2 separate regions of the Homo sapiens genome follow, and region 2 is linked to region 1. Evidence: fine-mapped QTL for protein levels in blood plasma. A gene starts in region 1. The other region holds a variant in brackets. All regions are shown on one strand. Distances are from middle to middle.

Region 1 (11,968 bases):
GAGCTCTCCCTCTGTTCTCGCAGCAGCCCTTTGAGCACCTGGTTTGCAGATGAGGAGGAAGCCTTGCTTTGGGACAAGTCTGCACCAGGTCGACAGGAGGGGTCAGGCCCAGGGACCCGACAGCCCAGGCCAGGGCTCCCCCTCCACCGGCCTCGCCCCAGACCCATCTGCCCAGTGAGGGGGCAGGCAGAGCCGTGTTAACCAGAGGATATGCCCCAGATGCTGGGGTCCCCCTGCCCCTTCATGGAGGCAAGGCCAAGGGAAGAAAGGGCTGGACCCCTTCCCACGCACTCCCCAGAGTCAAGGGGAAAAGACCATGCGTGGCCTCCAGCCCAGGCCTGCCTGCACGGGGGTCCCAGCTGTGCCCCCACCAGCTGTGCAACCCAACCCTGGACAGATTCTTTAGGTTTTGGTTTCCCTGTCTATAAAGTGGGGTGACCCCAGCCCCAGAGGGCCATGGTGTGTCCTACGTGAAGTATCGCCCAGGCTGAGGCCAGAAGCACTCAGCTAACGGTGGAGGCACTGTCACCTGCAGCAGCCACGGCTCTGGGAGTGCCATGTCCATCTCCTTGCTGCCATCCCCAGCCACGGTCCAGCAGGGCCAGGGTACTCGAGGGAGCAGCCCCTGAGGCCAGCCTGGTGGAGGCGGCGCAGATCCGTGATGTTCCCAAGGGGAGGGTACTCTCAGGGTCTACCTCTAGAACCCACAGAGAGTCTGGGTGTCAGTGAAAACTCAGAGGTGGCTCTCAGGCCTGTCCCTGCAGGGGATGGACCCCCAGAACCACCTCATGGAGCTGGAGCCACACATACGCTTGCGACCTTGGAGGCCTCCATGGTCTGGCTCTTCCTCTGCCTGCCCTCTCCGGTGGGCAGAGGTGATAAATGTGCCTGAGGTTTCCGAAAGCCAGGAGACCCTCCCCCACACAAGGCAGGGATGCAGGCAGGGGCCCAGCTCCTGTCTGAGACAGAACACAAAATCCCTTCGGATTCCTGCCACCCTTGAGGCTCGCCGAGGAATGTGGGGCACGCAGGGGCTGTTGGAGGGTCCCATCCAGCCTCTGGCCAGGAAGCTCCGACGCTCTGACAGGCCCTCAGGTGCCTGGGTCCGGGGGCAGCACCCTTTGCAGGCATCCAGGGGTTGCAGACCAACACAGGGAGGGGACAAATGGGAGAGGAAGGCCCCCTGGGGAGGGGGCACTGGAGGAGGGGCCATGTTGAACGCAGACGGCGGCACCCAAGGACAGGCCAGCCCTCTGAAGCACCCCAGGTTGAGGGAAGCACAAGCTTTGGTTGGCTGAAGCCGGGGCAGGAAGCCGGCCAGCTGGAACCAAGGGCATTGTTTATCTGGGCTTCCAAAACATTCATACTTTTCAAATTAATTGCAAAAAATGTTAGCAGGGAAACATAGAAAGGAGAATGTAACCACCACCATAATCTGTGACCTGCAGAGCCCCGAGGTGACACCCAACTCTCCCTTTTTCTAGCACACGTGTGCTTAGGACGGTTGAGGCCATAGCGTGGATGCTACTCAGAGTACTATTTTTTAAAACTTTTGCTTGACACAATACCGTTAGAGTTTTCCCGAATCACTAAAAACGTCTCAGAGCATGGTTTTTTTGCTGCGGAAGCTCCGGGGCATCGGAGGACCCTGGGCCTGAGTGTCCCTCCACTGCTGGCTGTCCCTGCCATCCTGGAGCCCACAGAGAATGGGGCTCTGTCCTGTCTTGGGCACTCAGGAGATGGACAAGGCTCTCAACGGGAGGCAGGGTCTCGTCATCCCCAGGACAGGGAGAGCCGATGCCTGAGCCCACGCAGCAGTGAACATCCTGGGAAGGAAGTGTTGAACCCCAGTCCCATCGTTTCCCTAAGAGCAACCACAGAAGTCCCGTCATGGGAGTCAATGTGTGTGCGGCTCCGTGTGCATGAGAAGAGGAGGTACAGGGCAGGCTGCATGGCCCCCACACTCCCTCAGGGCCAACTGCACCAAGACCCCAACCAGCCACACAGGACAGTGACCAGGTGAGCAGGTGGAGCGGCCCTTGGTCCCTGTGACCTCCTGGCCTCATTCCGGAGCATGTGGAGGTTTACTTGGGATCAGCGCTTCTGGGGCAGGGGACCTGCACTCCACCTGCCACTTCTGGGAGAGAAGGAGAGAAAGTTAGGGTGGGCTACAGCCAGCCAGCCCCTGCCCCTGGCAGCTCAGGCCTGAACCCCCAGGATCTTCCACCCTGTGAAGACCAAACAGGCCCAGCCAACCAGGTGCAGGTTGGGGAGGGCACCCCCACCTTGGCCTGCGTGGAGCCCCGAGTCCTGGGGCATCCTGAGGGCAGCTCCCGGGGCACCCCATCTAAATTGCACACACGCTCAGGCCCTAAATTAAAATGTCACAGGCCGGTTGGGGAGGCTCGGGTTTCCTGGCCACAGAACATGAGCCTGCTTGATAAAACAATTTTGGTTTTGATAAATGTGGATTTTCTGTGGCAGAGACAAAGGCGCCCTTGAGTCCAGAGGGGAGCCTAAAACAGCACATTGCTGAAAAGTATTTCCTGATAATATTTTTAGCACCTGAGAAAAACATTTTTTTTTCTCTTTTTTGCCTGCAGAGTTGTGTTGTTTTTTTTTTGTTTTTTTTTTTTTTAATGAAATGTAATGCCCAGCAGCAGCGGGGCCTTTTGTTAACCCCCAGCTCCCCGGGCCCGGCTGAAAATCTGCACAGGGTGCAGGCCGAGGCTGGTCAGCAGGGTACAGGCCCGAGGAAGTGTGGCCTCTCTGGGCCATGAGCAGGGTCTGGCCCACTGCCAGCCACGCCCCAGGCCCATGAGCTCTGACTCTCTGGGACGAGGACGGGCCTGAGCGTTTCCAGCACTGCTCAGCGACCCCCGTGAGGCCCACCAGCCCACCCGCCTGAAGAAACAGGCCTCCACTCGGTGCAGCCACTGAGTGCCACTGTGTGCCCCAAGGTGCCCTGGGCGGCCCTGCCCCCAAGTTGACCCAAACCCAGCCCAGAAATGGGTTGTTACCCAGGTCCCTGTCTTGTGTGCTCAAGAGAAGGTCAGCAGTGGGGAGAAGGGCGCCTGGCCTGGGCAGCTGGCTGGGAGGCAGCACCCCAGGCTGGGCTCTGAGAGCAGAGCAGGAGCATGTGGTGGGAAGTGGATGGGTAGTAGGGACAGGGCAGGAGGTGGGCCAGCCCTAGTGGGGGTCAAAGCCTCACGTCCCCATGACAACACCTCTTCAGCGGAGAAATCCTGCCCTGGGGTTGGCACTGCCGCCTCCCACCTTCGCAAACTCACCGGAGGGGCCTTCCAGCCAGGCCCCAAATGCACTGAAAAGAGGGTAGAGGGCTGCCAGGTTTTTCTAGAAAAAAGACAAATAGAAAAGCGTTCTCCCTGATTCCCGCCACGGTGACGCCTGGCAGCTCTGTTCCCAACGCTGCTACATGGGGCCTTGTCCTGACTCCACGGCCTGTGCCAGCCAGAGGTGGGAGCAGCCCTCCCTGACCAGGGAGGCCAGGGCTGGGCTGAGGAAGGGGTTAAAGCATGTTCTTGAGGCCCCACGTATGGGCATATGCTGCCTCCGTGCATGTGAATAAGTATGCATGTGTGCGTGGACGTGTGTGCATGTGCGTGGAGACATGTCTCTCCTTGCCAGGCTCTCACCGAGAGCCGGCCTCAAGTAGGGATTCTACAGTTCCACGCCCTCTCTGGTGCCTCCCTCCAAAGACAGGAGGCCTTGACCTTTCTGGCCCTGGAACCATGGCTGTGCTGCTGTCCTGGAGCTCTGAAAGCTGGGACGGTGACCTAAGGGCTAACTGCGGGACAGAGCCCTTCCCCTCCCAGGCCCAGTTTGCCTCTCTGCAAACAGAATTGCCACCCCATGCAGGGTGGGAGAGGCGCCAGGGGCAAGCTTTCAGGAGGTGCCAGTGCAGGGTCAGCTCCTCCTTAACAATTCTGCACCCGGCCCTGACACCAAGTCTAAAGGGTCATGAACCTCTGAGTGAAAACACCAAGTGCAGGATCTGTGAGAACCGGCAACACCCAGTCACACGCAGAGAACCCTCCGCTGCTTCTTAAAAATAACATTGACTGTGCCTGGCTCTCACTGAAAAACAACACGTGCTCACTTGAGATATTTCAGAAGATACAAACGCAAAGACAAACAAAAAACCACCCAGCACCTCAGTGGTAGATGCAGTTACCATCAGCCCGGCCTTTCCTGCTTGTCTTCGAGGGGTGCACTCTTATCTTTGGGGGCCCCAGTGTGGCACGCAGCCAACACCACCCAACACCAGGATCTAAGAGAAGAGACCACGGTGGGCCGGGTGAGTTCCAGGAATCAGACCCTGCCATGGGCCTGGGGACATAGAGGTGGTCCCGGCTGAGGCCCTGAGGAAGGACAGACAGGCAGCCCAGGCCAGCAGCCCAAGAGACAGGGGGCAGGGCTGGCAGGCCACAGGGTGGGGACCCTGAATTCAAATACTGGGACTCAGAGTCCTGCCCCCACCTGCCAAGGCCGGTGTCATGCACGCACTTGCCCCCAGGGCCTGAGTGGGTCAGTCTTCCCCACGGAGGGTTTGCTTTACCCAGGGGTCGCCCCGAGGTCCCGAGCCTCCCAGGAATTTCTCCTGATGCGGCCACGCAGATGCAAACACTTTGTTCCATGCCTCCTAGTCTCCGGCCCGGGCTCTTCCTCACACAGACCCAGGCAGGGAGTGGGCTCCGGGGTTAGTCTGCCCCTGTGGCTGGAAGCCTGGCGTCCCCATGCTCAGGGCTGGGAAGGGGGCAGCACGGAACGGGTTCATTCAGGCACTGCCTGGCCAGGGTCCCCTCCCGCCCCCCGCGTGATGACACGCCTTCAGGGCGGGCCCAGCGTCTCAGGCCTTAGGGACACAGGTCTGTCCCAGGACGGCACTGAGGGCCCAGGCGCCTCCACCAGGGTAGGGACCCAGGGCGGAGCATGGCCCCACCACAGGGCGCGCGCCCGCAGAGCCCTCACCTTGCCTGTGCCCACGCCAGGGGACTGAGCTCCCCGCGCGCCCGCGCCCTCCCACGGGGCCTGGCGCTTTAAGAGACGCCCGATTTGCATGGCCCCGCCCCCCCGAGTGACCGCCGGGCTGGATATTTAAATCGTGGCCCCAGGGGCGGGGCTGGCCCCGAACGCGGTCCCGCCCGGCGCTTTCCTCTGCGGAGCTGCGGCGAGAGCGCGGCCCGGCCGAACGGGCGCGGGACGCGGAGCCCCCGACGGCGCGGCCAGCGGGCGCGCCCGCGCTCCCCGCACCCCGCCTGGCCCTGCCGGCCACCCCCGCGCGCAGCCTAGTCCCCCAGCGCCCTGCTCCGCCAGCGCCCCGTCCCGCCCGCACACCTCCGCGATGCGGCACGGCGTCGCCTGGGCGCTGCTGGTGGCCGCGGCCCTGGGGCTTGGGGCGCGCGGGGTGCGCGGCGCGGTGGCCCTTGCCGACTTCTACCCGTTCGGCGCCGAGCGCGGCGACGCCGTCACCCCCAAGCAGGACGACGGCGGCTCGGGGCTGCGGCCGCTCTCGGTGCCCTTCCCGTTCTTCGGTGCCGAGCACTCCGGACTCTACGTGAGTAACCCCCGGGCTCGCGGGGCGCCCGGGAGGGGAGGGAGCTGCGCCCCGGCCGCTGCCCGCCGGGCCCGGACTCCCGCCGCCGCCGCCAGCCACTTGGCACCGGGGCGGCCCGAGGTGGAATGAGGACAGCGCTTCCTCCTCGGCGGCCAAGGCCGGACAGCGGCCCGCGGGAGAGGCGCGCGGGCGGGGCGGGGGCGGCAGCCGCCGGGCACCGAGGCGGGGGCGAGTGGAGCGCGGCGCCCCGGCCCCTGCCAGACCTGCCGAGCGCGTCTTCCCGGCGCCTGATTCCCAGGGGAGAGCAGGGGTCCTGGTACTGCCCTGGTTTTCACACATGGCAATGTGGCCGTGGGCACGGGCTTCCCGGGCCTCAGTTTCCCAAGTGGGGCGCCGGGCCTGCGAAGGTTGCAGCCCCTCCTTGGGCCATTTCAGCCCCGCCCCCCGTGGACGCCAGTGCGGCCCAGAGCCAGGAGGCTGGACCCCTTGCCCAGGCGCTCAGGGCAGGGCCTGCTTCTTCGCTGACCCTCCTAGGCGGGCTAGCAACAGGCTTGCCCCTCCCTGCCGTCCTCTCCGCAGTCTGGGGGCTGGCCGCTCAGGCTCAGACTCTCCAAACAGGACTCCCAGTGGGACTCCTGGGGCCAGGGACTCATGACAGCAGGCTCAGCTCAGCTGAAGGAACAGGCCCGAGTGCCGGTTCTGTCTCCATGGCTCCCAGAGTGTGACCCCAGGCCAAGCCCTTATGGCAGCCCAGGGAATGAAATGCACCTGGTAACTGCATGGAGCACTCGCCCTGAGTAGGCCACGGTGCACTGGTACCTGGTGGTTCCCTGAAACACCCCAGATCATATCTAGAAAACTGCTGGGCCAGCCTCAAGTAGAGTCCCCTCCAGCTCCGTCACCACGGCCACCTCCACCATCAGCCCTCTCATACCCTCGCCCACCTCCAGCCTCAACCCACTGCCAGCCACATCGCCTCTGCCATCTGTGCTGCCCGGAGTAACACCACCTGTACTGCCAACTCCTCCGTCAACACCACCTCCTTCAACCCCACCACCAGCAGCACTGCCTCCACCACCACCTTCCCCATGGTCCCCAGCTTCCCGTCGTCACCATCCACATCCTCTGCATGGTTGTCATCATCCCTCCCCACCTCCATCCACAGGGCCTCCTCCACCACATGCCCTCTAGTGCGCCTCCCACCCCACAACTGCCAACACCATCCACAGCGCCCACTGCGTTTTCCACACCTGCTCAGGAAGGCCTCCCCACCTCGGTGGCAGCACTGGGTGACCTGACTGGTGGGAGGGGCAGCCATGCTGTCGGTGCTACCCCCTGAAAGTCCCTCTGGACCGGGACTTGGACAGAGGAACGGGACTGACTCCTGGAAGTACGAAGTGGGTAGGACAGAATGGTGCTCAGCGTTGGCCCGAGCTGGAGGAGGCCTGTCCACTTGAGGTATGGGACACTCACATTGGCACCATCCGAACAGAACTCAAGAGGCTCCTTAAGCATTTGGGCCAGGCTCAGCTTTCCCACTCACAGTCACAGGTGAAAATATTATTAAAATGGTTAACCCACTTAACAGCCTCACCAAAAACATCTGCCCTTGCCAGAGCAACTAGGGGAAACAGCTCTAACGTGGGAAGATCTGCTAGGAGAACTAGGGTTTCGTCAGAAATGAACCTTCTGGCTGCTAACAAAACATTTATCTCCATCGGAGCTTTTTCCTGAAACAAAGATATTATTTGAAAACCATTTGCCGATGTGGACACAGTGCCTGCAGTGCACTTCACCTTTCTGTTTGCTCAGCAGGAGGCTTGAGGCTGCGTTGCCCAGGACACCTTGCCTGAAGTAACTGTGCGGACTCTGTGGTCAAGCAGGGAGAGAGAAAGGGGTGCTTGGCAGCAGGTTAGGGCTGAAGCCAGGTGGAAAGAAGGGAGGCATTTGTTCTGAAGGAAGTGGACCTGCCTGGGGCCTCCCACGCCCACCCAGGCCGAGCGGACCCTCTTCTGAGGCCCCTGGCTCTGGCCCTTGTCCAGCTCCAGTCTATAGGGGCCTCGTGTCTGCTGGCCCTGGACTCAGACTCCCATGTCAGGCCCAGCCAGGACCCTCCAGCCCCCATCCCACTGCAGTGACCTCTGCGCTCCTCCGCCCCCAGCCTGTCGCTTGACCAAGAGTAGGCTTGTTGTCTGAATGAATGAATGTGCCTCCCTCTGACACTGCCTGCAAGTCACAGGTAGAAATTAGAAGTGCTCTTGCATGAGATGGGTGCTTCTTCTGTCTTCATCAGAAATAGCACATGGATTACTGCCCTAGCAAGACAGCTCTGCCACACATGGAGTGGCCCCCTTTCCAGAAGGGACCCATTGTTTTGCTTCTTTCTCATGTCATAGTAGCTGTATGTGTGTGGTAAGTCGTAAGGCTCTGAAAAGTGTTGAAAGTGCATTTTATTGCTAAGGTTCTACACACAGACAAAGATAATGCAGCCGAGGAGCGTGGCGCGCCGAGGAGTGTGGCGTGCTGAGGAGTGTGGCATGCTGCCGCTATCCTGCCATGCAGGAACTGCCAGTGTCTGCATTAAGACGGAGCTTGCCGCGGTCTGTGGGGCTTATGCAGGTGGAGTGGTTTCCTAGGGGCAGGTGCAGGGAATGAGAGACGAAATCTTCCTGGTGCCCCCTACACTGAAGCTCCTGGCTCCAAGCACTGCCCCCATCCACAGCATGGTCTCTGGGCCATGGGAGGATCTCAGTTTCTTTGGCATCAGGACCCCCGACAGAGCCCTGAGCAGAGGCAGGGAGGATTTGAGGGTCAAGAGTGGGTGGTGCCCTGCAGAGCCCGCAGGCAAGAAGGAGGAATGTGGACAGTCAGACTGACCCTCGCTGGTGCTGGCTAAACCCCCACTCTGTGCCCTGAGGCTTCGTGCCACACCGCAAGTCTGCTGGCTCTGGCTCTGCACAACATTACCATCCAGGCACAGTCCCGGCCCTACCCCTCCCAGAACACGGAGCCCAGGGCAGCTGCTCTGGTGTGGGAGTTCACATGCAGCCTGTGACCTTTGCCTGGTCATTTCCTCCCTGAGCCTCTGTCTCCCCATCTGTGTGGTGAAGCTCCCCCATCAGGTCATACCTGTGACACACCCCATCACTGTCACGGTTGTGTGGTCGCCAGCTCCAAGCCATCTGGAAAATCCACCCTGACCCACAGGGACTGTCTCAGTGGGACCGAGGCCTGCGCATGAGTGGATCTGGGAGCAGACATGTGGGGAGAAATCACTGCCATCTCTGCTCTCTTCTGAGCTCATGGAACACCCCAGCAAATGCAGGAGCCCCTTGGCTGGGAGGAGGGTCCTGGGCTTCCCCTTGGCTGCCCTATTCACTGAGGTTCCCGGGCTGGCCCACCCCCTGCTATGGGCTTGGCCAAGGTGGTCCTGCCCCTCATCAGCATGCCCTTCTTGCTGCTGCCTGGGTGTGACGGAAGCAGATGGAAGGGGATCCTGGGGAAGTGGAATGGGGCTGGAGTCGAGGAGGATGCTGGAGTGAGAGAGCCTGATGACTCCAGGTCAAGGCCATGAGCCCAGGACAGCTGTGATCTGCCTGGACCTCACAGGCAGCCCCTGAGAGGATGGAGCAGGACGTCATGCCCAGTGCAGATGAGGAAACCGAGGCTCAGAATGCAGATTCAGGGGCCTTCAGACTCCTGCGTCCAGCTGCCTCTTACTGTGCCACCCCAAACTCAGTGGGACCCAAACAGAAGTCCTGCTTCCTCCCTGGCGCCCACCCATCTCCATGAATAAACCCCTGAGAGCCTCCCCAATGCCTCCCTCCTCTCCCTCACCCTCCACGTCAGCAGCAGCTCCGCCTGCCTCTCTACTTGGACCACTTCCCAGCTGTCCATCCCCACTTGCCTGGACACCTGCAGCACCCCCTTGCTGACCTCCAGCTCTTGGCCTTTCCCTCCAGCCTGCCCTCCTCTGTGCAGAGTGACCAAGGGAGCCATACAAAACACCAGTGGGATCCTGTCTCTCCTCGCCAGAATCCCCGCTACGCTTCCCTGCCCCCCTCCGCCCTCCCCCGGGCCCCCCGCTCAGGCACTCCCCCAGCCCCACCCTCTGTGCTCACTGCAGCTTGTTGGTTCTGACCTCAGCTGGGTTGCTCCTTAGTTTTCTTGTTTGGGAGGTGTTGGGATGTGCACCCCATGAAGGCAGGGACCACATCCATCCTCATGCCACCATTCTGGTGTTGGGCTCAGAATAGGCCTCAGACGACAGCCTGGGGCTGCAGTGGTGGTGGTGCCCTGGTGAAGGACTCTCTCTTCCACCCCTGCTGAGGCCAGAGGATGCATGCAGCAAGATGCCTGCACCCTGAGCAGTAAGTCCTCCTGTGCCACATCCACATGGTGGGCTCATGGTCTTGGCCACCAGCACATTTCTGCACCGTGTGTTCCCCAAAGCAGAAGCAGTCCCACCTTCCCTGACAGGGTGAGCCTTAGCCTGGGAGTCAGCTTTTCCACACAGAGATGCAGGACCTGCACACTTCAGCCTCAGCCCACAGCCGACTCCCTCCCAGGACTGGCCTGACCCATGGCACAGGCACAGCTGTTGGAACATGGTAGTGTGGTAGGGGGTCCTGGCTGCATGCTGGGCCCCATAAGGAAAGTCTCTGTCTGCACTGCCCCACCTCTGCAGGTGACCTGCTTAGAGAAGAGACTCACAGGGAAGACAGGTCAGTTTGTGTGATACTGACATGAAGTGTTATCTGTGACACTTCTGTGTGTGATGGGCCACGAGAAGCCATAAGGCTGCACACAGGAGCAGCAATTTGTAAAGGTGACCAAAAAAATGTTGGTTATCATTTATACTGCCCTCTGCCTTCTAACATCTCTGGTTTCTGATGAGCCCTTTCTTGGCTGAGTGAGCTGGAATAGGGCTGGAAGCCCCTGGGCTGGACAGGGCCAGGCTGTCCTATGTGAGGAAGGAGAGAAGCTGATGCATGTATGGAGGGGAAGATCCTGGAGTGGGGATGAGCCTGGGGGTGAGGCTGGCCTCTGCTTGAGGCACAAAATGATCCCCACATCCCACCAGGGGAGCCATGAAGAAAGGAGATGTATATAGGTAGTGGGCACAACACTGATAAAACTGCAGTCTGAGCATTTGTTGTGGCTTCTTGTTCTGGCTTCCTGTGAAATCTTCAGCAAAACCCTTACCACACCTTAATGACTGTGGCCTTGATTGTCTTTCTTGTAAATGCTAAAAAAAAGAAGTGTAGTACTGATTTTTTTTAATCCAGCCTGACAAATCTCTTCCTTTTAATTAGAGTGTTTTAGACCATTTACATTTAATGTAATTATCAATATGGTTGAATTTTAACCTATCATCTTCCTATTTGTTACATCTGTTCTCTATAGTTTCTTCTTTTGGATTTTTAAAAATAATTTCATATTATCTATACTATTGGCTTATTACCTACACCTCTGATTTTATTTTTTTGTGATTATTCTAGATTTAAAACACATTTTTAACATAGTTTACCTTCAAATAATATTATACTCTTTCAAGTATGATATAATAATCTTATAACAGCATACATCCATTTTCCTTCTGGCCCTCATGCTATTGTTGTCATATATATTACTTTACACATGTTATAAACCCAATAATGCACTGTTAACTTTTTGTTTGTTTGTTTTTTTGAGATGGAGTCTCACTCTGTCGCCAGGTTGGAGTGCAGTGGCGTGATCTCGGCTCACTGCAACCTCTGCCTCCCAGGTTCAAGCAATTCTGTGCCTCAGCCCCCTGAATAGCTGGGATTATAGGCGCCCACGACCACACCTAGCTAGTTTTTTTTATTTTTAGTAGAGACGGGGTTTCACCATCTTGGCCAGGCTGGTCTTGAACTCCTGATCTCGTGATCCACCCACCTCAGCCTCACAAAGTGCTGGGATTACAGATGTAGGCCACCATGCCTGGCCAATGTTTTTTTTCTTTAAAACAGTCAATTATCATTTAAAGAGATTAAAATTAGAAAGTCTTTTATATTTACCCACATATTTACTATTTCCAGTCTTCTTCATTTCTTTGTGTAGGTCCAGATTTCTTTTTTTAAAAAATTTTTATTTTTTAAATTTTAGTTTAGTTTAGTTTCTGTTTTTGTTTTTGTTTTTGTTTTGAGATGGATTCTTACTTACTCTGTCATCCAGGCTACAGTGCAGTGGCATGATCTCAGCTCACTGCAACCTCTGCCTCCCGGGTTCAAATGATTCTCCTGCCTCAGCCTCCTGAGTACCTGGGACTACAGGTGCCCACCATCACCCCCAGCTAATTTTTGTATTTTTAGTAGAGATGAGGTTTCACCATGTTGGTTAGGCTGATCTGGAATTCCTGGCCTCAAG
Region 2 (11,968 bases), 41 kb after region 1:
CCCTGACCTGCCCCGCCCTGCCCCTGCAGTCCCCTTTAACAGCTGCAACAGCAACAGAAATGTCCTCTGCTCCTTGTGCCCTGCAGTCTGGCCTAGCCAGTGACACAAGGGACCACAGCCGGCAGGAAACCCCGGGTGTGGAGGGAATGAAACAGGACAATGGCCACAGGGTCAGTGCTCCCCAGGCCCGAGAGTGCCTTTGGGCTGTGCGCACCCCCACTCACCTCCTGGCCACCTGCTTTCTCTTGGGTTCATACTTGCCCCTGGCCCCAGGGGAGGCCCAAGAGCCCAGAGGTGAGCTGCCGGAGGACTGGGCTGGGGAGCCAGGGCCAGCCCTCTCCTTGGCTCCCAGGAACGGTTGGCTGAGGTCAGGACCTGGCTGGGAGGTTGCCGACCCTGGCAGGAACATGGTGGGGGCAGGGTAACCCCCACCTCTGTAGACCTGGGGAACTGGCCTCCCTCACTCTGCCCCCACCCCACCCCCAGGCTGGCTTCAACGCAGGCGATGGGCAGC[G/A]TTACTTCAGTATCCCCGGCTCGCGCACAGCAGACATGGCCGAGGTGGAGACCACCACCAACGTGGGTGTGCCCGGGCGCTGGGCGTTCAGAATCGATGATGCCCAGGTGCGCGTGGGGGGCTGCGGCCATACAAGTAAGAGGACAGAGGAGCAGCTTGGGGTGGGAGCGGGCTGAGGAAGGGGGTTGATGGCAGAGGAGAGGTGGAGACGAAGGGGGCTGGATGCTGACGGGGAGAGCAGGAGCACTTGGGTGTCCAGCCCAGCCCACCTCAGGCGTGTGAAACTAAGGAAAGCCTGGCTGGTCCTGCAGCCTCAGCTTCCCCTAGAGAAGACCCCACACACACACTGCTCTGGGTTGGAGGGAACCCTCTGGAGACTGTGCCCTAGAGAAGATCCCGCACACACACTGCTGTGGGTTGGAGGGAACCCTCTGGAGACTGCGGGTTTCGGGGGTAAAGAGTTCTGGGTCCTCAGGGGAGGAGGAGCCCAGGGACACCTCTCCCTGGGACCATGTGGTCCCTACTCTCCCCTTATTCCCACCCAGCCTCCTGCCTGGGCTGGGGGAGGAGCAGCATGTGGTCTCTGACCCTCAGGGCCACCCATGAGGCAGGTCCTCTTACCACCCAGGTCCTCATTTTTGCCAGCGGGCTTGCTGCTTGGTGGGATTTGGTGACTGCTTGACAAACCCAAGCATCACGTCTACAGGGGAGTTCCAGGGGTCCTTCCAGCCCACAGTGCACAAACGGACGGGGTGGGTGTCCCTCCCAGGGGTGGGCACGTGGTTTGTGGGAACAGCCAGGGCGGCAGCAGAGCCATAGATGGTAGCCTTAGCCCTGCTGCTGTGCGGCCTTGGGAGCCAAGGAGCCTTCAGAAATCACTGCTTACACTTGGGGCGAGGGCAAGCGACTGATCCGCTCCACTGAGGGCGGCGCATCACAAGCCCTGCCAAGCCTGGGGCCGCAGTGAGGCTCGCACCGGGACCTGCCCCAGACTCGCCTCCCAGCCGCGAGCATCTAGGCTACGAGAGGGGAGAGGGGCCGCATCTCCGCAACACTGAGTCCCCAGAGAACACGACAGGGGTAGCAGATGCGCGCGCACCACTGTCGGGGCGGAGGCGGGGTGCAGGCGCGCCATGGGGTGGGGGATGAGGGGTAGAGAGTGTGGGGGTGGGGGATGGGGTATGCAGGTGCGCCACAGGGTTGGGGATGAGGGGTAGATGGTGTGGGGATGGGGGGTGCAGGCGCGCCACAGGGTTGGGAGTGAGGGGTAGAGGGTGTGGGAGGTGGGGGCGTGCCATGGGGTGGGGGGTGCAGGCGTGCCACGGGGTGGAGGGGTGGGGGGTGCAGGTGTGCCACGGGGTTGGAGGTGGGGCGTAGTAGGGGTGGGGGGCGGAGGCGCGTCACGGGGAGGGGAGTGGGGGGTGGAGGTGCGTCACGGGGTGGGTGGGGGGTGGAGGTGCGTCACAGGGTGGGGGGTGGGGGGTGGAGGCGCATCACGGGGTGGGGGTTGGGGAGTAGAGGCGCGCCACGGGGTGGGGAGAGCACCGCGCGCTCATGGGAAGAGGAAAGATGCAGTCGCAGGGCGGGAAGACCCATCTGAGGGCTGCAGGTGGTGCCGCGACGAAGGAGGCCCGAGGAGCCCGAGCTACCCACACACTGGGGCACGAACAGGCCCCCGCTTGCATCTGAGCTTAGGGAGTCCGGGCTCACGGGGCGGGGAGCCCAGAGCGGCCGCCCAGCATCCGAGGGACACAGCCCTCCTGCAGCCCCCAGCCACACCCCCTGCGTGGCCCGCCTTGTCCCAGAAACGCTGACATGACGGCTGAGTGCCAGCCTCGGGTTTTCCACGCCAGGAACCCTGGAGGGGAGGCGGAGTGTGCCAGTTTTTAGACCTGTCCACGGCAGCGCTGAGAGGGATGGAGGGGACGGGGTGCTGGTGTGAGTCGCTTCAGGGAGTCCGCCCCACACGAAGCCACCTCCCCAGAGGCCACGCCAACAGCACCGCCCCTGCTCCCCTGCTCCCCTGCTCCGACCTAAAGTGAAACCTGAAACCTGGCTGCTTTGCTGCGGTCACCCGGGCACCCAGAGGCCGACCTTTTGGGTCAGGGGAGGGAAGGGAGATGCGGATGGGAGTGGCTCTCCTGCCGAGTCCGGAGGCAGCGGCTGAGGCTCCAGCCCCTCCCTATGTCTGCAGCGTCCGTGTGCCTGGCCCTGCGCCCCTGCCTCAACGGCGGCAAGTGCATCGACGACTGCGTCACGGGCAACCCCTCCTACACCTGCTCCTGCCTCTCGGGCTTCACGGGGCGGAGGTGCCACCTGGGTGAGTGACTGGCCCAGGGCGGGACCACCCGCTGGCTGCGCTGGGCTCAGGAGGAGCACTGTAGGCTCCGCCAGTGGCCCTGGGCGCCCAGGGTCCCAGGTCAGGAGTCTCTGTCCCCAGGGTGTGGGTGACTTGCTTAGGGGACCACTGGGGACCAAAGGCCATGGCCCCCTGGAGTGAGCACCATGGGCGGGTGCAGTTGCTGCCCTCTCTGAGCCAATCTCGGGCTTGCTCCTCCTCCGTCCCCGGCCCAACCCGAGCCCTTAGAGAAAACTCCTCATCCGGGTTCCCGCCGCTGAGGCCTCAGCCTGCCCCATGTTTCAGACGTGAACGAATGTGCCTCCCAGCCCTGTCAGAATGGTGGGACCTGTACTCACGGCATCAACAGTTTCCGCTGCCAGTGCCCGGCTGGCTTTGGGGGACCCACCTGTGAGACAGGTAAGAGGAACCCACCGGGGCCCACGGGGCCCTGCTGGGGGCAGGATAGCGGGAGACACAGCTGGACAAGGCTGAGGTCTTGGAAGGTCCAGCAGCTGTGCATGCTGCAAGGTAGACAGCCCAGAGAAGCCACCCTCGAGGAGTGGAGGAGCCCAGATGCCCAGGGAAAGGCCCATATCTGGGTAGGGGGCAGGAGCCATGACCAGTCACACAGGCTTCCTAGACCATGGCATTCGGACCAGGGATGGGGCCTCAGAACAGGCCAGTGCCCAGGTCCCAAACCAGGCCAGGATCAGGGTCAGACAGGCACCAGAGCCCGGATGGGAGCCCGCTGGGGATGTGGTGGGGCCGTCAGACCCCCTCTCAGCCCAGGACCAGCTTGAGGGGAACGTGAAGTGCTTCTGGGGTCAGATGGGCTGGCTGTGGGGCAGGAAGGGCACAGCCACACGGTCCCTGCCGCTCCCTGCGGCTGCTCCTGGACGCTGTTTCTCTCCTGCCCCTGCCTTCAGGGAAAGGGGGTCTCACAGCCTAGGTGGGGCCTGGAGTCCCTCTCCATCCTCACTGCTGCTACCAAACCTCAGCTTGCCCTCCCAGTTCAGAGCCCAGCTCTTTCGAAGCAGTTGTCATCAGAGTCAGCCTCTACTTACTGCCCTTCCCCCGGCACCTCTTTAGGCCCCTCACCCATGCCCTTCACCCACCTGGTAAAGAAAGGTGGACCCCCCCCCAATTCCTGCTCTCCATCTCACCATAGGGCTCTGCTCAGGGAGCTTTGCAAAGGGAGCCCCTAAAATCAAAGCACCGTGACCTGCTGCTCCCCACCCAGCTCAGCCAGGTGTGCGTGTCCTGTGTGACAGTCGCTTACAAAAACATGTAATAGATTGTTTAGATCAATGCATTCAAATAGTGACTATATCAATATCTCAATCTAGAAAAAAACAATTCTTATCAGATATTTATGGTCATGGGAGGTTTTTTAAAGTACTTCCTTCCTGTGTTTACACATATTGGTATTGGAGAGAGCTATAGTTGAATGGCAGTAAGGGACTTTTGCACCTGAAAGTACATTAGAATGAAGTTCTGCAGGAATGCAATGGAAATGTGACTTCAAGGTCCAAAGCAGTGAAGCACAATTCCCACCTGGCGAGATGGGCTTGCCAGTGTGTTTACAGATCACACATAGGTGACAGCACAGTGACCCCAGTTATCCCTTGCTCCCCGAGCCCTGCCACTGTCTTCCCACAGCCAGTGTCGGAGCAAGCTCCATTCATAGGAGCCTTTCTTCATCCAGAAACTCCTGCCCTGCTTGCCCACGTGCTCTCAACGTGAGACGGGTGGGAGTCGGGCTTCTGTGGCATTGGTGCCGTGGCAGACTCAGCCCTGCAGGCGTCTGTCCCTTGGTAAAGGCCAGGGAGGCTGGCAGGATCTCCTTCCTCTTGCTCAGTGCTCTCCCTGTGCGGTGCTGGCCAGGGGCCTGGCTGCGGGAGGACCCAGGCCTATGATGAGGGTCCCCAAGGGTGACTGGGCAGAGCTTCCCAGGAATGGGCTGCTCCTCGGCTATGCCCCAGGCTCCAGGAGCCCCTCTGTGATGTGCAGCCTGGTGAGGTCCCCTAAGAGGGCTTGAGGCTTGGCGCCAGGAGGCTGGTTCAGGTCTTGGGTCTGCAGCATGTCAGTTGTACGTGTGGCCTCGGACCGTGAGCCTTCACTTTCTCAGTGCAGCTGTGGCACAAGCCTTGGGTACAAGCCTTCCCGCCTCGACCCCCCACAGGGGCTCCCTGATCTTGGAAGCCACCTTGGCCCCCAGAACCCATAACAGCAGGGGCGCCCGCAACTAAAGGCTAGGGTGTGCATGCTCCTCCACCTAGCGGAGTTGGGGTCAGGGAGACAGGGATCACCATGTCCCATCAGCCACCAAAGGGCTTTCACACCTCCTGGGGGAGTAGTCAGGCCCTCCTGTCTCCTTCCTATGCCAAAGAGAGGGCCCCACCATTCCCCCATGACTCCAGGGAGGGACACACGCTTTGGCTATCACTCTTGTTTCTGAGTTTGTTCTGGGTATGAGCTGTCAGTAAGACAGGGGATGTGGTTCTCCTCTGCGTCTGGCTCTGCTGGCCAGGGCAAAGGAGAGACCTGGGATGTGTGGGCCAGGTGCTCTGGACTCAAGGAGGGCCAGCATCCGGTGAGGAGGGAGGGCAGAGGGTGGGCTCCCCTAGCTCACTCCCACTCAGTAACTGGGGGCCAGAGTCCCTTTGCCCTGGCCGTTCCTGCACAGGCCACTGCCTGCCCCACCCAGCCTCTCGCCCCAGGGGCCACTCCTACACCCTGGGTGCTGCACACCCTTCCAGGCTCAGTCACAGCCTGCATCCTTGACCACAGCTCTTCTCACAGTCCACTTGGAATAAGAGCCACCTAGGGAGGGACCATCCCCCAAGAGTGGGAGTGATTTCCATGCACCCCCATTTGCCCCTGCCCAGCATACACACCCATCCCTCCATCCCAGGTTTGCTGAATTAGACCCAGTTCAGACAGAGCTTCGGGTGGCCAGTCAGGACTGCCTGGCCAGGCCTCTTTCTTGCCTGTCGCCCGCTCAGAAACCTGCCTGCCAGGCCCCCCTGCAATGTAAGCCAGTTGGGGGTGGGGCTCAGTGTACGTCCCAGGGGTTTCTGTCCCCTCAGGTAACCATAACTGGGAGTCCATCGTCCTGTCTACACCTCCTCACTCTAGCCCAATCCCCCTGTGACACCAAAGAGTGTCAACATGGTGGCCAGTGCCAGGTGGAGAATGGCTCTGCGGTGTGTGTGTGCCAGGCCGGATACACCGGAGCAGCCTGCGAGATGGGTGAGTGGCCTGGCTTCGGATTGGAGAGGGGCTCCTGCCCGTGGCCAGGTGCTGGGCACAGGGTGGTTGTGGCCTGGCTCAAGCCAAGCCCGCACCTCTGCTGCCCCTCAGATGTGGACGACTGCAGCCCTGACCCCTGCCTGAATGGAGGCTCTTGTGTTGACCTAGTGGGGAATTACACCTGCTTGTGTGCCGAGCCCTTCAAGGGACTTCGCTGTGAGACAGGTAACTGGCCAAGTGCCTGCAGGCCACCATGGCTGATGGTGGCTTTGTGCCGTGAACACCCCCATAGCCACTTTCCCCTTCCTTCCTTGCCATCTGACTCACCTCACACCTGTCTCTGGGGTGGGAGGATGCCTCTGCCCCCTTCCCACTCCCCAGCGCTTCCCGCTCAGCCTGGATCCTAAGCCACCAACTGCAGGGAAAATAGGAAGCAAAAGATGGATGCTGCCTCCAGGGTGCTGTGTGAGGCTGAGCAACCCCTTCCCCTCTCTGGGCCTTGGTTTCCATCTGTGAAATGCCAGGAGGGATGACAAAGTTCACAAGTCTCCTCTTCCAGCCTGGGTGACTCTTGACTTTTTTAACATCTTCCTCTCCTACTCTAGAACCCTCAGCACACAAGGGAAAGTAACGGGAATCAGAAAGAAAACTGACCTTTCACTATTTTCTATTCTATTTTGTGTTGTTTAACTGCTAGTTGTGACTTGTTAGAGGAATTAAAAGGCCAACTGGAGATTGCAGCCTACAGTATAAAAATGGCTTTCGTGTCTGATTGTTGCACCTGCCTCCAGAGGCTCACCCACTGTGCCGACTTCTGTGGACGCACCAGGTGCTGCTTCTCTCCAGGGAGATGCTAAAGACAAACTATTCAGGTTATTTTTAGTTTAAAAAATTCAGGAGGAAATTCTGTTTTACCCGTAAGACACAGAGGGTCATGGGCCCTCCATCAGTCTTTGCCGAGTGCATGGGAGGCCAGGGTGTGTCCTGAGGGGAGGGTGGGGCAGGAGCGGGAGGAGGCAGCCTCACCTATTTGGCTGCTTTAAAGTCACTGTTCCGTGTCACAGCTCACTTTGCCCAGATTGTTATCTAAATATCAATGTATTTCACTAAATTCATGTCAGGAAACGGATAAGTGGTTTCAAAAATTTTTTGCAAATAAACCGTGTTTTCTACAGAATAATGATGCAAGTAGAGTGAATAATAAGAAACAGACTGGCCGGGTGTGGTGGCTTATGCCTGTAATCCCAGCACTTTGGGAGGCTGAGGCGGGCGGATCACTTGAGGTCAGGAGTTCAAGACCAGCCTGGCCAACGTGGTGAAACCCCATCTGTACCAAAAATACAAAAGTTAGCCAGACGTGGTGCTGCATGCCTGTAATCCCAGCTACTCGGGAGGTTGAGGCTGGAGCATTGCTTGAACCCGGGAGGCAGAGGTTGCAGTGAGCTGAGATCGCACCACTGCACTCCACCCTGGGTAACAGAATGAGTGAGACTCTGTCTAAAAAAAAACAAAAGAGGAAGAAGAAAGAAACAACAGACTGACGGTGGTGCTAACGTAATGACTGATTGACTGTATTACAAGGCGCAGATGCTGACAGTCTAATCAGGTCTGACAGGAAGTGGGCCACAAATTGGACACTACAAAAAAGAGTCTCTAGTCTTCTGCTTCTGGCCAACAAGAATTAACTGCTCTTGGAATTTCCCTCTCACCATCAACACCTAGAAAAACAGACAAAATCTGTGAAACCCTTTTCAGCCATTAGACAACAGACAGCACAAGCCTGTCACCCCTGAGAAAAGGGAATCAAATGAGGTGAGCCCTACAATTGCCCCAGATTCTGCCTGGGGCAGTTTCCACTCCACTGTGCTGGGAGGAGGAACTGAGAGTCCAGCAGTCCCTTTGAATTGAGGAGACAAAGATCCTAGTTCAGTGGCTACAGGATGGTGCTCCTGAGGCAGGAGGGAGCATGAGATCAAGAGGAGACCTCCCTGAATTTTGGCTTATTATTATCAGGCTCAGGATGAAATCTGCAAGGCTGGGGAAAGAACCACTAGAAAGCAGTAAGTCAAACACTTCCTGGAGCTCAAACAGGGCTGGGAGTCTATTGCATAGAGTCCTCAGTGGGGTGTCACTTTAGTAGTGCTGAACTAAAGACTAATGTCGACCTGCCCTAACAGATCTTAAAGAAAGCTTAAAAGGATCAAACTGATCCTAAGTCATTGAGCCATGTGCCAGAATAAAATCCTATACTCCTCAACAGGAGTATATCAATAATACAACAGAATCCAGAACTCCAAAATACCCAGTCAAAAATTATCAGGTCTACAAAGAAGTAACATATAACTCACAGTCAGGAGAAAAATAGATCAATAGAAACAGGCACCAGAAATGACAGAATTAGCAGATACAAATGTTTAATTATCTATTATGAATATGCTCCTATAATCAAGATTGTTGAGGGGAAAAAAACCTAATGAGAAGTAGAAGGTATTTTTAAAAACTTGTAGAAATGAAAAATATATCTGAGTTTTTAAAATACACTGAATAGTATTTACAGCAGGTTAGATATTGCAGAAGGAAAGATCAATGAACCTGAAGAGTGAAACAGAAACAATTCAATATGCATCACAGAGAGAATAAGACTAAAAGAAAAAGAAGAGATCTTCAGCAACCTGCAGAACGATATTAGGGTAATAGGATCCACGTATCTGGAGTCTGCGAAGGAGGATGGAGAACAGTATCAAGCAGCCTGGGATCCACGTATTTGGAGTCTGTGAAGGAGGATGAAGAACAGTATCAAGCAGCCTGGGATCCATGTATGTGCAGTCTGCAAAGGAGGATGGAGAACAATATTAAGCAGCCTGGGATCCACGTATTTGGAGTCTGCGAAGGAGGATGGAGATGGGTGTGGAAAGGAGTGTTATAGAAAAAGTATGTGAAGAAATAATACCCAAACATTTTCCACATTTGATGAAAACTAAAACCCACATTTCCAAGAAAAGCATGAAGAAAACCATGCAAAGCCATACCATAATCAAATTGCTGAAAACTAATGATAAAAAACCTCAAAAACAGCCAGAGGAAAAAGCCACATTACATACAGCGAAACAAGAATGAAACAGACTTCTCGTCAAAAACAATGCAAGCCAGGAGACACTGGAGTAACACCTTCAAAGCACTGAAAGAAAAAACCATCAACCTAGTGTACTGTATTACCAGCAAAACTACATTTCAAAAGTTAAGCTGAAATAAAGACTTTTTTACACAAACAAAAATGAAGAGCATTCATCACCAGCATACCTGCATTACAAAAAAATGTTAAAGGAAATTATTTAGTCAGAAGCAAAAAAAAACTGGTACCAAGGGAAAATCTGGATCTACACAAAAGAATGAAGAGTGTTAAAAATGATAAATATGTGGGTTGAAGACTTTTTAATCCCTTTAAAGAAAAATTTTAAAATAATAAAACTTACATGCAGAAATAAAATAGATGACTCCAATAACATAAACCAAGCTGTGCAAACTTTTTCTGTAAAGGGCCAGAAAGTAAATACTTTTGGCTTTGTGAGCCATATGGTCTCTATCACAACTCAACTCTACCATTGTAATGTGAAAGCAGCCAGCCATAGACAATATGTAAATGAATAGGTATGGCTGTGTTCCAATAAAACTGTACTTTTAAAAATTGATGGCAGGCAAGATTTGGTCTGTGGGTTATAGTTTACCAACTCCAATGTAAAAGATAAGAAGAAATGGAAGTATAATATTGTAAGGTCCCTATATTACATAAAGTGGTATATACTGTTTGAAGGTAGGCTGTGTAAGTAAAAGATATACATTGTAAACCCAAAACAAGTGAAAAATAATAATAAAGAATTACAGCTAATAAACCAATTGTGGAGATAGAAATTGAATCCTAAAAATACTCAATCCAGAAGGCAGGAAGAGAGGAAAAAAAGAAAGAAGTGGGACAAGTAAAAGCCGATAGCAAGATGATAGGTTCAGTCTAGTCATATTGGTAGTTACATTAAAATGTAAAATGATTAAACATACAAATAAAAGGCAAAGATTGTCAAATTGAATTGAAAAGCAATACCCAACTATATGCTGTCACAAGAACCCACTCTAAGTATAAAGACACAGGTAATTGTAAAGTAATAGAATGGGTTTCTGGTTCTGAAAAAGATAGAGTAAGCACAGTCTACCCCTGTCTCTCCCCCACTGAATACAGCTACAATCCTGGACAGAATGCATGGAGTAGCTGTCAGAGGACTCTGAAAAGTAAATAGTAGCAGGTGGATTGGGGAAGAAGACCAAGCTTCGAAGTACCACCAAACCAGTGGTGAGTTTACCATTTTTTGTTTTTTGCTTTGGTATCCCCCCAGCCAGGACTCAAAGCCACCTCAAAACCAGAAGTGGGCATCCACACGGACAGAAAGAGTGCTCCAGGAGAAGCCCTCTAGTCCAGCTTAAGAAGCAGGGCTGACAGTGCAGAAGTTGGGGAATCCTCAAGTGCCCTTAAACTGCGAAGGAAGAAACCTTCCTCTCCAGTTGGAGGTGCTGTGGTTTCAAAGGGGTTGGGTATTGTTTTTCCCTTTCCTGTTGTTTTTCCCTTTGTCTGTCATCCCATTACTTGGTCCCAGCCATGAATGCCATCATTATAAAAGTGGCAAGGTAGGGAAATAAAAGCCGCAGCGTTTTTGCCAGAGGACTGAAAAAGGTAGCCCCAGAAAACTGGAAAGTACTGGGGAAACTGGAGGGTGAATCTTGGGACAGCAACTCCATAAAGTTACTTATGAACTCCTGAGCTCCCCCAAGTTGAAGGAATCTGTGTAATCTGATCTAAATTGTATTGACAATACCATTTATAATAGCTCCTCTCAAATTGAAAGACTTTAGTATAAATCTACTAAAACATTAGAGAATTTGCATGCTGAAAAACTACAAAGTGCTGATGAAAGAAATCAAGATCAAGTAAATGGACAGACATACCATGTTCATGGATTAGAAGACTCAACGTAGTAAATATGGCAGTGCTCTCTAAATTGATTTATAGATTTAACATGATTCCAACAGAGGTCTCAGCAGAATCTTTTGTAAATGTAGACAAACTGCTTCTAAAATTTATATGGCAAGAAAAAGAATTTAGAAAACCAAAACAATTTTGATGAAGAATAAATTTTGAGGAATCACACTACTGAGTATTAAGATTTACTGTAAAGCCACAGTGATCAATTCAGTGTGATATTGGCAAAGGGACTGACACATGGATCAATGAAACAGGAGAGGAAATTCAGAATTAAGCCCAAACAAATATAGCCAATTAATTTTTGAAAAAGATTTAAATCCAATGGAGAAATGATAATCTTTTCAACAAATGGGGTTGAAACAATTAAATATCCTTATATGTATAAAAAAAAAACCTCAACTTCAACCTCACACCTTATACAAAGATTAACTCAAAATGGATCATAGACCTAAATGGAAAAACATAAACTATAAGATTTTTAGAAGAAAACATAGGCAAAAAAAAAAAAAATTTATGACCTGGTCTTAAGCAAAGTGTTCTTAGATAAGACAGCAAAAGCATGATTCATTAAAAAGAAAAAGATAAATTAGACTTCATCAAAATTTAAAACTTTTGCTTTGTGAAAGACATGGTTAAAAGAATAAAAAGACAAGCTACAGACCAGGAGAAAACGTTTGCAAAACTCATACCCAACAAAGGACTTGTGATCAGAATACACCAAGAATTCTCAAATCTCAACTGTGAGAAAACAAACAACCCAATTTTAAAAATGGACAAAAGACTTGAACGGATACTTGGCCACAAAAGATACATATATGGAGGTGAATAAACG

What was found. PIP is the posterior inclusion probability: the model's chance that the variant is causal. The UK Biobank Pharma Proteomics Project read protein levels with antibody pairs (Olink). The fine-mapping took linkage between variants from a reference panel, not from the people measured, so its PIPs are less certain.
Region 2: its variant is fine-mapped to the plasma level of the SNED1 protein (UK Biobank, PIP above 0.99). The variant lies in the coding sequence of SNED1. If it changes the protein, the assay may bind it differently, which can mimic a change of level.

What each region holds. Positions count from the first base shown.
Region 1 is chr2:240,993,473-241,005,440 of GRCh38, forward strand. SNED1 (sushi, nidogen and EGF like domains 1) reads left to right here and starts at 5,146. Exons shown (of 32, transcript NM_001080437.3): 1 at 5,146-5,578. The coding sequence starts at 5,366. RefSeq lists a silencer at 4,778-5,197.
Region 2 is chr2:241,034,082-241,046,049 of GRCh38, forward strand. SNED1 (sushi, nidogen and EGF like domains 1) reads left to right here. Exons shown (of 32, transcript NM_001080437.3): 4 at 487-649; 5 at 2,709-2,834; 6 at 3,159-3,272; 7 at 5,994-6,107; 8 at 6,219-6,332. All of the region lies in intron 1 of SNED1-AS1 (SNED1 antisense RNA 1), which reads right to left. It also overlaps a transcript of MTERF4 not described here. Among named protein-coding and RNA genes, the nearest start is that of SNED1-AS1, 24 kb to the right of the region's middle. RefSeq lists enhancers at 19-962, 963-1,904, 1,905-2,848, 7,278-7,327, 7,778-8,007. The variant G/A (reference allele first, on the strand shown) is at 515.